4 linked regions of the Homo sapiens genome follow. The gene in region 4 interacts genetically with the main gene of each other region. Each region holds a gene or a part of one and is shown on either strand. Other genes may lie near its edges.

Region 1 (3,500 bases), on a different chromosome or scaffold from region 4:
AGCTGCAGCTCTATTTCTGGAAGGACAGGGAATTTCATGAATTGCAGGTAAGTCCACTGTTCCTTGGTCCATGGTTGGGTGGGAGCTGCTGCAGTGGCTCGGTTCTAGTGAAGTTCAGGACTCCAGTCTTGTCATTCTACGCAAATGAATACTCTGGTATGAAGTGCATGAGAGCTTGTTGATGCCTACTTGTAATATGATTCTACAGTGTTTTTATAGATTGGTTTATTTCAAAGTGGGTTTTCACCTTTTCCAAATGTACTTTGTCCAGTTCATGGACTTGTATTTTTATTAAGGGTAGTTTCCTGGCCTTGTGCCTGTAGAATTGTGCCCGATGAGGGTGAGGGTTGTTTTGCAGAATGGAGGTTGCAGAATAACAGGAAAGTCATGATTTTTTAAAAAAATATTTATTTCATTCAGATCCTTGCTCTCTTTTTTCAGGGGGACTTTAGTGTGCCAGATGTGCCCAAGTCCATGGCGTGGTGTGAAAATTCTATCTGTGTGGGTTTCAAGAGAGACTACTACCTAATAAGGGTAAAATCTTATTATTTTGCAAATATCATTAGTTTATCTTGGGGAAGATGATTATCTGCTCCAAACTCCAGGTCAAGCGACCACTTTAAGTAGAGCTTTTGGCATAACAGGATTTGTTATTTGTATGTGTAGTTATCATTCATGCTCAGCATTTTTCACAAATAGGATATCTTTGTAACTTAAGTCAGTCCAAGAGTCAACGCTCAGTTCTTTACGTAATGATGATCCACAGTGTGTATTTTACTATTGGGACAGATAATGAAGGCTGTTTGCCTCTGTCCAGTGGATCATCATGGACTGCTATCCTAAGGCTTCAGTGCTTAGGAATTTTAAACTAATTTTAGTATAAACTTAAGTATTTTTAAGACTTTGAGTTTCCTCTCCTGCCGTCAAATCTTTTTGTATGTTTGTACTAAAAGTGATTCTCACTATTTTTTTAAATTTCAAAAGCCACGTGTTTTTACACGTGTTTATTACAGAAAATATAGATAAGGAGATAAAGGAAGTGCAAATCAACCATAGTCCCCCCACTCAGAAATAGTCACTGCCAACTTCTTGGTATATGAACTTCCATCCTATTGGTAAAAATACTATGCTATACAATTGTTTTATGACCTGTGTTTTCTCTTAACGTAAGTTGTAAATATCCATGACGTTGTTTTTCTCCAATATGCATACTATATGTAGAAAAGATTGACACACTGTTCGTTTCATTGAATAATCTAAATCTCTTAGCTTCACACCCCTTGTAATTCAGACATGGCAATTCTAGAAGCCTCTCTCTCTACCTTCCACTGGGTGAGCTCTTCATTGGTTATTTTATTTTATTTGAGACAGGGTACCCCTCTGTCACCCAGGCGGGAGTGCAGTGGCAGGATCTTGGCTCACTGCAGCCTCCGTCTCCTGGGCTCAAGCAGTCCTCCCACCTCAGCCTCCCAGGTAGCCCAGATGCCTACCACCATGCTCAGCTAATTTTTGTATTTTTTTTTTTTTTGTATTTTTGTAGAGATGGGGTCACAATATGTTGCATAGGCTGGTCTTAAACTCCTGGGCTCAAGCAGCCCTCCTGCCTCAGCCTCCCAAAGTGCTGAGATTACAGCCACCATGCCTGGCCCCATTGTTATCTTGTTAATATATTTGTTCCATCTTTGTGTCATTTGAATATCCTGATTTTATCAGCATCAGAGTTGCAGACTCCTGGAGGAGTCACTGCTGTGCCACTGACTCAATAGCAAGTAGGCCTACAGATGGTGAGAGAGCGCACAAGGAATAAGGGAACTGAGCAAAAGCTGGACTTAAGGCTCTCAGTTCTCTGACTGCCTTGGATGCTGACATCACCTTCAGGGTGGGAAACCTTGCTTTAGGACCAGGCTATTCAGAAATTACTTATTTACATACAGTAAAATTTATTCTTTTTGGTGTACAGTTCTGTGTTTTGACAAATGCTTAGATTTATGTGACTAATGCCACAATCGAGATTCACAACACTACCATCACCCCCCAAAATTCCCTCATATTGAAGTCAGCCTCTCCTTCTGTTCCTAGACCTCTGGTAACCACTCATCTGTTCTTCATCTCCTATAGCTTTGCCTTTTCCAGAATGTCATATAAATTGAATGACACAATATGTAGGCTTTTGAGTCTGGCTTCTTTCACTTAGCAGAATGCACTGGAGATTTATCCATGTTGTTGTGTGTGTTAATAGTTTATTCTTTCTCATGGCTGAATAGTAGTCTATGGCAAGGTGTTTGTTTATCCATTCATCAGTTGATGGACAAAGTTGATTTTGGCCAGGCGCGGTGGCTCACACCTTTAATCCCAGCACTTTGGGAGGCCGTGGCGGGTGGATCACGAGGTCAGGAGATTGAGACCATCCTGGCTAACACGGTGAAACCCCATCTCTACTAAAAATACAAAAAAAAAAATTAGCCTGGCGTGGTGGCACACGCCTGTAGTTCCAGCTACTCAGGAGGCTGAGGCAGGAGGATTGTTTGAACCCAGGAGGCGGAGGTTGCAGTGAGCTGAGATTGTGCCACTGCACTCCAGCCTGGGCGACAGAGCAAGACTGTCTCCAAAAAAAAAAAAAAAAAAAGTTGTTTTCAATTTTTAGCAATTTTGAATAAGCATCTAAGACATTTGCATACAAGCGTTTGTGTAAACATACATTGGCATTCCTGGGCAAATGCCTGGGAATGGGATTGCTGGGGCATATGGTAAGTGTATCTTTAAGGGGCATATGGCAAGTGTATCTTAAACTTTGTAAGAAACCAACAAACAAAACAGCTGCACCATTTTGCATTCCCACCAGCAGTGAATGTGAGTTCTAGTTGCTCTGCATTCTTGCCAGCACCTGGCATTGTCAGTTGCCAGGCTAGATGCTTTCCTTTGCATTAGAGAACGGGTTTTACATTGTGATAACAACGGTTATTATAATAAACTCTGTAACATTTTCTTATGTCAAACAAGGAATATTATTGGCTTCTCTAGGTTTCGGGTTCTATCTGGATTTTTCCTGTGTTCTTACCTCTGGCTGGGGAATGCTAGGTGACTCACTCTGTTTCTTCCTATAGGTGGATGGAAAGGGGTCCATCAAAGAGCTCTTTCCAACAGGAAAACAGCTGGAGCCCTTAGTTGCACCTCTGGCAGATGGAAAAGTGGCTGTGGGCCAGGATGATCTCACCGTGGTACTCAATGAGGAAGGGATCTGCACACAGAAATGTGCCCTGAACTGGACGGACATACCAGTGGCCATGGGTGAGACCAACAGTAGCTGCTGTTTCCCACTTTGGGTTGAGGTTGTGTGCCATTCCTGCAGAACGGAGTCCCATTCGTAGCTTTAGCAGACTGGTTTACGTTGTGTCATTCACTTTCAGTTCCCCTTCTTATAAGTAGATGACATTTTAGGGTCATTAAAAATGGGATAGTCTAGTTCTTGCAAGAAGCTGAGTTTTACTCCAGAGGGGGAA
Region 2 (3,500 bases), on a different chromosome or scaffold from region 4:
TTAACATTCAGCTCCTTGTTACTTAACGCAAATTTCTACAGCTGGCTTAAATTTCTTCTCTTTGCTTTATAAATTACTTGGTGGTCTCAGCTCAGTGATCCAGTGATCTGAGTGATCTCAGGAAAAGAAAGAAATATTAGCAAATAAGAGAAACACCTTACATTGCCATACTCCTTTGACAGGTCATGTGAAAGTAATTTAAGTGATCATATCACTTAGCCTGCAGCTTGAATATTTGTCTCAGGCTAGGTTTTACTTTAGGTGCTTGTAGTATGTGTTTATGCACTAGAAAGTTAGTGTTATCATAGTTCCAGCATAAGGATGTCTTACTGTGCCAAATAAACAGTGGAATTCCTATATGTATCTTGATATTTGTTTCTTGTACACTGAATGAACTTAGGTACAATACACACAAGCCCACTTAACTAAAGGTCACATCTTTTTTTTTTTTTTTGACAGAGTTTCACTCTTGTTGCCCAGGCTGGAGTACAATATCTTGATCTAGGGTCACCTCAATCTCCACCTCCCGGGTTCAAGCGATTCTCCTGCCTCAGCCTCCCGAGTAGCTGGGATTACAGGCAGGCGCCACCATACCTGGCTAATTTTATATTTTTAGTAGAGACGGACGGGGTTTCTCCATGTTAGTGAGGCTGGTCTCGAGCTCCCGACCTCAGGTGATCCGCTCGCCTCAGCCTCCCAAAGTGTTGGGATTACAGGCGTGAGCCACCGCGCCCGGTCTAAGGTCACATCTTTTCTAATCATTTAGAACACAACCTAGAACCAGAAAGAAAGTAAACAAAAACAGGCCTGTACTCATGGGACAGCTGTGGAGTCTTCACCTATGAGTCATACCACCATCATAATTTTTGCCATTTAGAGTACTGTTGTTATTTTACTTCATGTTTAATGGGTTTTTTAAAAAAACATTGCCCACTTCCAAAGTGATAATCTGTGAAATCATGGTTTTTATGTATTTTATAGCTTTTTTAGCATCCATTATAATAAATACATAACTATTAAATATATAACTCTTTCATATGTAACAGTTAAAATCATATTCTTGCTCAGCACTTTGGAAGATACTGCTTTGGGCCTAATCAGCTCATTTTTAAAATGAAGATTGAACTAAAGCTTATGGGCTTGAAAATTCTGTGATCTCTATGATGATGTTCATTATCATAACACAATTCTAGCAAAGTTTACTGGTTCCACCAGATGAAAGTAGATTAGGGCCGGGCGGTGGTTCATGCCTGTAATTCCAGCACTTTGAGAGTCTGAGGCAGGAGGATCGCTTGAGCCCAGGAGTTTGAGACCAGCCTGGGCAACATGCCAAGACTGTCTCTACAAAAATTTTTTAAAAAACTAGCTGGACCTGGTGCCCAGTGCCTGTGGTCCCAGCTACTCAGAAGGCTGAGGTGGAGGATCGCTTGAGCCTGGGAGGTCAAGGCTCCTGTAGATTAAAATAACAAAAAGGAAAAAGAGGATGTTTGCTCTTTGATATCAGCTGCCTTTTTTTTTCCCTGAATTCAGGCTTTCCCCCGCCCCCGCCCCAATTTGGTTCCTTTATCTGCAACACTCTGGACATCTGTTTTTGAGCTATGTTTGTACTCCACATTGTGTATATATTAGCATGTATAATATTATAATGTTGCTTATCTCCAAGAGTGCTGAACTTTTTATTCCATTACTATATTTTGTTTCCAGATCTGTAGGTTGACAGACGGGCAGATGACAAGGACTGCTCTTTTCTTTTCCCTTTTTTTTTTTTTTTTGAGACAGAGTATTACTCTTGTTGCCCAAGCTGGAGTGCAATGGTGTGATCTCGGCTCACCGCAACCTCTGCCTCCTGGGTTCAAGTGATTCTCCTGCCTCAGCCTCCTGAGTAGCTGGGATTACAGGCATGCGCCACCACGCCTGGCTAATTTTTTGTGTTTTTAGGAGAAACGAGGTTTCACCATGTTAGCCAGGCTGGTCTCAAACTCCTGACCTCAGATGATCTGCCTGCGTTGACCTCCCAAAGTGCTGGGATTACAGGCATGAGCCACCTCACCCGGCCAGGACTGCTCTTTTTCTTTGCTGTGATAGGTAGAAACTTGAAACAGAAGGATCCAGTGCCTCTAACAATTAGAGGAAGTGGATTATGGAGCCAGGAAACAAAATGTACTGTGTTTTTTTAAATAGTAAGAGTAGAAGAAGCCCATTTGTATTCATTTAGATTCACTGACATTTTGGTTTGGGTTTCAATTTAGGTTGTATTGCTACTAAAGTATTTAAATCACTGATTCCTATGTTTTTCCAGAATTCTCTCTTCTTGTTGCTTTCTGTAAGTTCTGTAACTTAGATGTAAAGTTTGTTTAAATTTATTTTGACAGTGTTTTGGAAATTGAAATTACTTTCGATGGCCTTTCAATACTTATAAAACTCAAGCCAGGTGTGGTGGTGTGTCTGTAGTCCCAGCTACCTGGGAGGCTGAAGTAGGAGCATCAGTTGAGGTCAGGAGTTCAAGACCAACCTAGGCAGCATAGCAAAATAAATTTCAAACTTCTTGGTATAGTATACAAAGCTCTTCACAATATGTGTTCTGTCTTGAAAGCCATCCCCTGCCCTCCATACATACACACACACATTATATTCCTGCCTCACCACTGAAGCCTTACATTGTGGCTTTTTCTTCCTTTTTGATAATTTAATTTAAAATCATAATTTTTTGGACTTGATCATACTTGGATTTTGACCCACACAAATGAGAATCAGGGTGTTTGTGTTTTTTTGTTTGTTTGTTTTTTAAGACAGTCTTGCTGTGTCACCAAGGCTGGGGTGCAATGGCATGATCATAGCTCGCTGCAGCCTCAAACTGCTGAGCTCAAGTGATCCCCCTGCTTCAGCCTCCTGAGTAGCTGGGACTACAGGTGCACGCCACCAGGCCTGGCTGATTTTTTTTTTGTTGTTTAATTTTGTGTAGAGATGGGGGACTTGCTTTACTACCCAGGCTGGTCTCAAACTCCTGGCTTTAAGCAATCCTTTTGCTTTGGCCTCCTAATGTGCTGAGATTGTAAGCATGAGCCATCATGCCTGGCCAAAATCACGAGAGATATTTCATAATTATTATGAAAAGTTATAATAGTTTTATTGAGCACTGTGTGCCAGGCACTGCTCTAAATACTGTGCTTGAATTAGCTCAATCCATGTAACAACACTTAAAGTAAGCATTATTCTCATTTAATGAGGAAACTGAAGCACAGAAAAGTTAACAGTAATCAGGATTTGAAACCATTATGCCTTCAGATATTGGGCACATAACTACTATACTATGTTGTCTTTTGTATAAGCAAGAATGCCACTCTTTTCTGTTGGGGGTATCCTTTCCAGGGACGTGAGTGCTTATATTCTCTCTTTTTTTTTTTTTTTTTTTGAGACGGAGTCTCGCTCTGTCGCCTAGGCTGGAGTGCAGTGGCGCGATCTTGGCTGACTGCAAGCTCTGCCTCCCAGGTTCACGCCAT
Region 3 (3,500 bases), on a different chromosome or scaffold from region 4:
AGTTTAGCTAAACTTTTTGTTGGTTCTTTTTGTGTTAAGATATCTTAACTTTTCTTTAGGTGGTGGAGATACCTGGGATGGTATGTGGATTGCTTTTTGACAGCATCCTTTTTGCATCTTTTTGTTTGCTAATGTCTAATTTCTGCTTTCTTTTTTCTAACCTCAGTTTGTTGGCATGAGAGTGTTTTTTTCTCTTAAAAAACCCCTACAACTAATTGGATTGATATTTTTTTTGGTGGTTTTTTATTTCGTTGACAGGAGGTATAGGTTAGGTTATTTTAAACTAATAGCACTGAAAACACAGTTGACATTTTAGTAGTAACATCTTTGTTCTTTAAGATGAATGCTAAAGAGTGGAAATTCAATGATAAGGGGACAGAAGTCCCAATTAAACATAGCTCATAGCAAATGGTGCCTTTGACTTTGTAGAAAGTCATTTTGTAGACTTCTTAACCTGAAGCTTAGTTGGATATGAAATGCAGTTCTAGGAGCCATATGTTGATATGAAGACAAGAGTTCTTTTAGCCATATGTTGCAGTTAGAGTGTTCATTGCTCAGGTTACCAGTAATAAACCCTGATTGGTTCTTGGTGGTTCTGGATAAATTGCTTACCGGGAGCCAGCACATTTGGTGGTGTTTTTTTTTGTTTTTTTTTTCCCCACAGTGCATGCCAGAGTTTTTGAAGCTAGTCATTGTTTCACACATTTCATAGTATACTATTAGCGTGGTAACATTTCTCCCAGATATTCAGTATCAGTAGAGTGTTAACATCATAAAGAAGCTGAGTTGTTTGGTTGGATTTTGAAATCTATAGAATTTAGAGAGTCCTACTACTTAGTAATTCCTGCACTCATTTTTCAGGGCCACTTATAGGGTAGGACTTGACTAATTTTCAGGGAGAATGAGGAGTTCTGAAAGGCTTTTTTGGTTTATTTTCTGGAGTTTGATCCTACTTAAATAGTTTGAAAATGTTGGTTGATGAATGTGAATATTGAACTTCTTAGATAATTTTTTAACATATATCCAAAATTCTTGCTTTTGCTTGTTAATGTCAGTGAATGGCAGCTGTCAAATCAAGCCTTCCTCTAAAGCAGTGGTTCTCAAGTGAGGATGCCCAGGGGATATTTGGCAATATCTGGAGGTATTTTTTATTCGGAAGACTGGGGGTAGGTGCTACAGGCATCTAGGACTGGAGGCCATGGAGGCTGCTAAATACCCTATAGTGCATCAGATAGCGCCCCACAGCATAGAAAAGCATTTGGTCCAAAATGGAGACAATGCCACTGCTGAGAAACCCTGCTCTATCAGTTCCATGTGGTGCATGGGGCTTCCAAAGGGAAATTTCGAGTGAGGGACGGTTTGACATTCCAATTCAACTGCCTTCAATGGTAGAGGCCCTTGGTTTCTCCTAAGAAACTTGGGGTTGTCTGCGAGAATCTGGAATCCCAGAAGAGACCCAGTCTTGGGCAGGGATGAAGAGATCCCCCTTTCCCAGGAAGGTTTCCTGGTGCTGTTTCTCTCCTGCCTGTCTGTTCATTCTCATAACGTGGCACTACCTAGAAGCACATGCTTACTCTTCAGAACAGTGCCTTGTGTGTATTTTTGGTTCAAGAGGGATGCCTGGTTGAAAACTTGTGCCGCTAAGGGCTTGTCTCTCTACTTACATTGCCTGCTGTTCCCCACTATAGTGAAACTATTACTTTGTCAAAGAAGAATGTTTGAGTTGGTGTGGATTTTCCTAAGAGCGTTTTAATGTTTTTCTCTGCTCAGCTTTATAGAGATTAAGAGTCTGTTTTGGTGCTGCTCCTGCTTCTTAATTAATATTAGAGTTACATGACTCTTAGACTTTATTTGTAGGATTACATTTTAAAAATACAGGTATTTATTTTGTGCTCTTAGTCCCCTCTCCTCAGTGTTTTACTACTTTTGCTGTAGTTAATAGTCAGTATAGTGAACTTCACATAACAACATTCCATTAGAAGAAATTTCCTGGGGTTGTTTTCCTTTCCTTAGTAAGCATTATATAGTATGTTTCCTACCCTGAAAGAGGTTTCTCTACTGGGAAGGGACTTTTAAAAATGCTTTGAGAATTAAATTGACATGATTCATATCAGTAGTCCAAATTGATGTTTGAACCATTTCAAAAGTAGCTTCTTTTGCAGGCCTTCTCTGAGGATTTTGAAAAGTTATTTTATATTATTTTATATTTTATATTTATTTTATAAGTGTTTTTCAAAAAGAGATTGCCCCAGCCTAGGCAACATAGCGAGACCCCGTCTCTAAAAAATAAAAATAAAATGGTAGTCAGGCATAGTGACGCACCCCTCAGGAGGCTGAGGCAGGGGATTGCTTGAGCCCAGGAATTTTAGGTTACAGTGAGCTATAATTGCACCACTGTACTTGAGCCTGGGTGATAGAGTGAGATCCTGTCTTGAAAAAAAAAAAAGATGGCTGGGTGCAGTGGCTCACGCATGTAATTCCAGCATTTTGGGAGGCTCAAGCAGGTGGATCACCTGAGGTCAGGAGTTCAAGACCAGCCTGACCAACATGGTGAAACCCCGTCTCTACTAAAAATACAAAAATTAGCTGGGTGTGGCAGCGTGTGCCTGTAATCCCAGCTACTCTGGAGGCTGAGGCAGGAGAATCGCTTCAGCCTGGGAGGCAGAGGTTGCAGTGAGCTGAGATTGAGCACCACTGCACTCCAGCCTGGGCAACAGAGCGAGACTCTGTCTCAAAAAAAAAAAAAAAAAGACATTGACAAATGTGTTTTGTTTTCAAATCCTTCTATAGCTCACCAGAACAAGCTAGAAGAAATGATCAATGAGCTAGCAGTGGCGATGACAGCTGTAAAGCACGAACAGGAATACATGGAAGTCCGGGAGAGAATACACAGAGCCAGTAAGTGAATGCCGTCACTTTGCAGCAGTGTCTGATGGTGAAGGTTGTTTTACTCAACAGCTTGCTCGTATTTTCCTCATTTGGAAACTTTGCAAATTTTATGTGAAAGCATTGACTTTAAAAGTGTACCTACACGAGATATTTTTTGAGCATACACATGTGTGGAGCTTTGTAGTTTATTATTGGGACATTCATTGTAAACTAGAAAATGCTATTAAGATTTAGTACAAGTTTTTAAGAGTTTAGTTTTCTGGCCGGGCATGGTGGCTCACGCCTGTAATCCCAGCACTTTGGGAGGCTGAGGCAGGCGGATCACCTGAGGTTGGGAGTTCGAGACCAGCCTGGCCAACATGGTGAAACCTCGTCTCTACAAAAAATAAAAAAATTAGCTGGGTGTGGTGGCGTGCACCTATAGTCCCAGCTACTCGGGAGGCTGAGGCATGAGAATCACTTGAACCGGGAGGCAGAGGTTGCAGTGAGCTGAGATTGGGCCACTGCACTCCAGCCTGGGCAATGGAGCTAGACTCTGTCTCAGGGAAAAAAAAAAAAAAAAGTTTGGGTTTTTAAAAATGTATGGTGAGCTAAGGAATAAGCTAATTGTT
Region 4 (3,500 bases):
GTGTATATATCTATTTCCATCCAGGACTTGGACACATGCTGTTTTCAGTATACTTTATTAGGAGAAAATCAGAGATAATGTTCTTTTAGAGGGACAAGAAGTGAAAACTATTAATTTGAATATTATCACTAAAGTACCAGGATAATCAGCCTTTCAGGAAGCAGCTATTGGGCACCTGCTATATCCAAGCCATTCTTATTTTATAAAGTATTTCTTGAAAGAACAGACAGTCAAAGCAGTGTGTTTTTTAATTGTGCAGATGGCTCTTTTCTGTAGTTTAGATACCAAATTATTAGCTGGGCATTTTAATCCTAGTTTAATTAGTGAGCAAGACAGGTTTTTATATTGTGAATTTAAGTTTAAAAAAAAAATCCCCCCCAAAAACAAACCATACCCAGAAACAGGATTCTTTTATTCTTGTTACTATAACAGTTATATTGTTGACTCTTGCAGTTCTTTGAAGTGTTGTAAGTAGGTTATTATATCTCAGAGAACAGAATTTCCTGAAATAATCACATTGAGTTTATTTACTTATTTAGTTTTACTTTATTTTTTAATATTCTTCATGTAGTAAAACACAAACATCAGAAAATACCAGAGATTCAGTCATATATTAGTCAAGTATAGCTAGATATGGCTAGGGGTCATAATAATGAATTAGATAGATTTCAGGATACTACCAAATAGAGATGCACAAAATATATTTTGAAATACTGGGCATTGACCTCAGGTGCTCTTTCAGCTTTGTCCTTATTCTTCCTACAGGACTTTGTTTATATTATTGGAGTAGTAAAGTGGTAACATTTTATTATGGATATTGACACAGATCCCCAGCAAGACTTTAGCTCTTTGAAGTCTGAGACCACTTTGCTTTATTCTTTTTGAATTTTAGAACCTAAGAAAGCACCCAGTACATTGTAGTTAATCAGAAAACTTATGATAGTATTGATATAGTATATCAAAACACCTTTGAGTCAACGGAACCAATTGTAAGGATAAAAACCCATAGATCCCACAGTCTTCTTGAGAGTTAAATTAGCTTGAAAGAATTGTTAGTGTCTTGCAACCCCTAAGATATCCTTTTTATTGATAAATCCCTGTGCCACTAATGAAGTGATCAGTAGAAAGTAGATTACCTCTAAGCTATTCAGTTTAGTTTCCAGGAGGGGTTTTATTTTAAATCCACAGCCTCCTACCAATTTGTGATAGTGGCCCAACAAAAAGACAGGGTGTTTCTCCTACTTTGTAATTCAACCAATTTCCCTCTTTTGGGTCTATCAAACCACTGTGTTCTTGGTAAGGGGATGCCAGGGACATAATACATAATGTCACACACAAACTCTGAAAACCAGTTCATTATTCTGCTTTTTAAAGACATGTTTAAAATATCTATATAGACACTCTAAAAACATTTATTTCAACTACTCTTATTGTTAAAAAGTTTCTTGTTATTCATTAATTAAACAGAGGACATTCTGTTTGAGAAAGGATCCTTTGTGTAGGCAAGAATTATAACTTCCTTTAGAGTTGAAAGGCATGTGAATGTGTTTTGCACAAATTTTTTACGTTTGCTGGTTCATTTACTAAGTAAGTCAAATGCCCTACATATTGTTTATTAAATCTCTGCCTTTAATGTAAATTTTCAGCTTAAGTTGAGGTGGATTGAGGGATATAGATGCTACCACAGAGGAAAATTATTGAATTCTGAAATGTATTTTGTGTTTTAACATTTATTTGGGTGGTTTTTTAATTCAGGAAAATATAAAGAAGAAAAAATGGCCCAAAATCTCACTGATAAAATAACGTTTTTTGATACTTTGTTTCTGGTCCACATGCATTTATTAGCAAGCAAGCATAAACACATTTGTTGACATTAAAAAAATAGAAATACATACAATTATTAGATAATTGAAACTGTATAAAAATAAAATCCTTCCTTACCACCTTTCTCTCTCCAAAAATTTCTTGTTATCCTTCCAAGAAAATTTTTAATGCATCTATATATCTTCTAAAGAAATTATACAAAAGGATTTGTGCTGTACACTGTGTTCAGCATTTTGCTTTTTGTTTTCATTTCATATATCTTGGCAACTTTTTTTATGTCAGCATATGCAGATCTACCTCATTGTTTTTTAATGGCTTGATTATGTGGATGGGCCTTTTTTTTTTACTAGTCTTATATTGATAAACATTTAGATTGTTTCTAGTTTTGTTGCAACATTGCAGTGAACATCTGATTCACATATTTTGGCATAGGATAATTTCTGAGCAGTTGAATTGCTGGATCAAAGGGTATGTTCCTTCAAAATTTTGAAAGACTTTTTTTTAAGTTGCCATCCAAAGGCAAGACCAGTTTTCACTCCTGTCTACAGAGAGTACAGCATACTGGTTTTCTCATACTCTTGCCACTATTAGCATCTACCAATCCCAGTAAGTGAGCTAAATAATATTTGTAAGGAAGGGGGAAATATGTGGGGTTTTTAAAATACTCTGAAATTAGAAAAATGTTGAAAAGGTTAGTATCCTTATTTTTAATTCTTTTTTATGTTTTACATATTAAGAGATGAAATTGGCCTGATCCCATGTCCTGAAGCTAGGTATAACCGGAGTCCCATAGTCCTGGTTGAAAACAAACTGGGTGTGGAGAGCTGGTGTGTCAAGTTCCTTTTACCATATGTCCACAACAAGCTCCTTTTGTACAGAACAAGAAAGCAATGGCTGAACAGAGATGGTAAGTATGAATCATATTTTCTTCATTTGGTTTTTAGAAGCGACATGGAATATAGTAGGAAGAGCCCTTCTCTGAGTGTCAGCATTCCTGGATTCTAGTTCTGCTTCTTCTGTTCACTGTCTCGGTGGGTGCTAACCTTTCTGTCAAGTGAGTAGTTTCTACTCACCTGGACAAATTTTACAACCACAGTGATTATATAGAAGCCCTCAAGCAGAATTTCAGGGCACCTCCTGTAACCAGAGCAGTTCAGATTTTATCAGTTTATGTATTGGGGTCATTGGTAAGATTTCATTTGAAGGAAAAAAAAAAATCTGAATGTCACTGAAGAAGACTCTAGTCCCTATAGGCTCAGTCTCTGGTTTCTAATCCTTTAGTATTTTTATAGGCAGCAAAACTCATTTTCATAGTAGTCCAAATGAGATAATGTAGGCATGATAGTGGTAGTGATATTATGAACCAGCCCAGTGATTTATGGATGTGCCATTCCACTGCAAGTTCCAGTTGAGCTCTGGCCGTTTGTATCCTGTTCCTGTGCTGAAATGAGCAAAACAAAACTATCCGGCATTCACTTCTTCCATTTCTCTCAGACAGTTTTTTTTTTTACTGCATCAGACAATCCCTAATCATTCCATCTGGTCTCTTTTCTTGGTGTTCTGCCATATTAAGCCTCCATGTGCACAAATTCTGTTTATCATTGTATGCCCACCTCAGGTCTCACTTTTTGGGAGAAGACTAATTTAAGACCATGTCCTTTACTGTTTTTGTAAAG

Evidence for each region.
Region 1: changes in PTAR1 (region 4) and VPS39 are lethal when combined (synthetic lethality), as found in Homo sapiens cells (one study listed by BioGRID).
Region 2: changes in PTAR1 (region 4) and SNAP23 are lethal when combined (synthetic lethality), as found in Homo sapiens cells (one study listed by BioGRID).
Region 3: changes in PTAR1 (region 4) and TMED2 are lethal when combined (synthetic lethality), as found in Homo sapiens cells (one study listed by BioGRID).

Annotation. Positions count from the first base shown.
Region 1 is NC_000015.10:42,184,305-42,187,804, reverse strand, and holds part of VPS39 (vam6/Vps39-like protein), read left to right. Parts: coding exon 1-47; intron 48-441; coding exon 442-534; intron 535-3,104; coding exon 3,105-3,288; intron 3,289-3,500. UniProt on the Homo sapiens protein: Regulator of TGF-beta/activin signaling, inhibiting SMAD3- and activating SMAD2-dependent transcription.
Region 2 is NC_000015.10:42,498,634-42,502,133, forward strand, and holds part of SNAP23 (synaptosomal-associated protein 23), read left to right. Parts: intron 1-3,500. UniProt on the Homo sapiens protein: Essential component of the high affinity receptor for the general membrane fusion machinery and an important regulator of transport vesicle docking and fusion.
Region 3 is NC_000012.12:123,587,552-123,591,051, forward strand, and holds part of TMED2 (transmembrane emp24 domain-containing protein 2 isoform 1 precursor), read left to right. Parts: intron 1-59; coding exon of another isoform or gene 60-80; intron 81-2,790; coding exon 2,791-2,898; intron 2,899-3,500. UniProt on the Homo sapiens protein: Involved in vesicular protein trafficking. Mainly functions in the early secretory pathway but also in post-Golgi membranes.
Region 4 is NC_000009.12:69,750,012-69,753,511, reverse strand, and holds part of PTAR1 (protein prenyltransferase alpha subunit repeat-containing protein 1), read left to right. Parts: intron 1-2,561; coding exon 2,562-2,731; intron 2,732-3,500.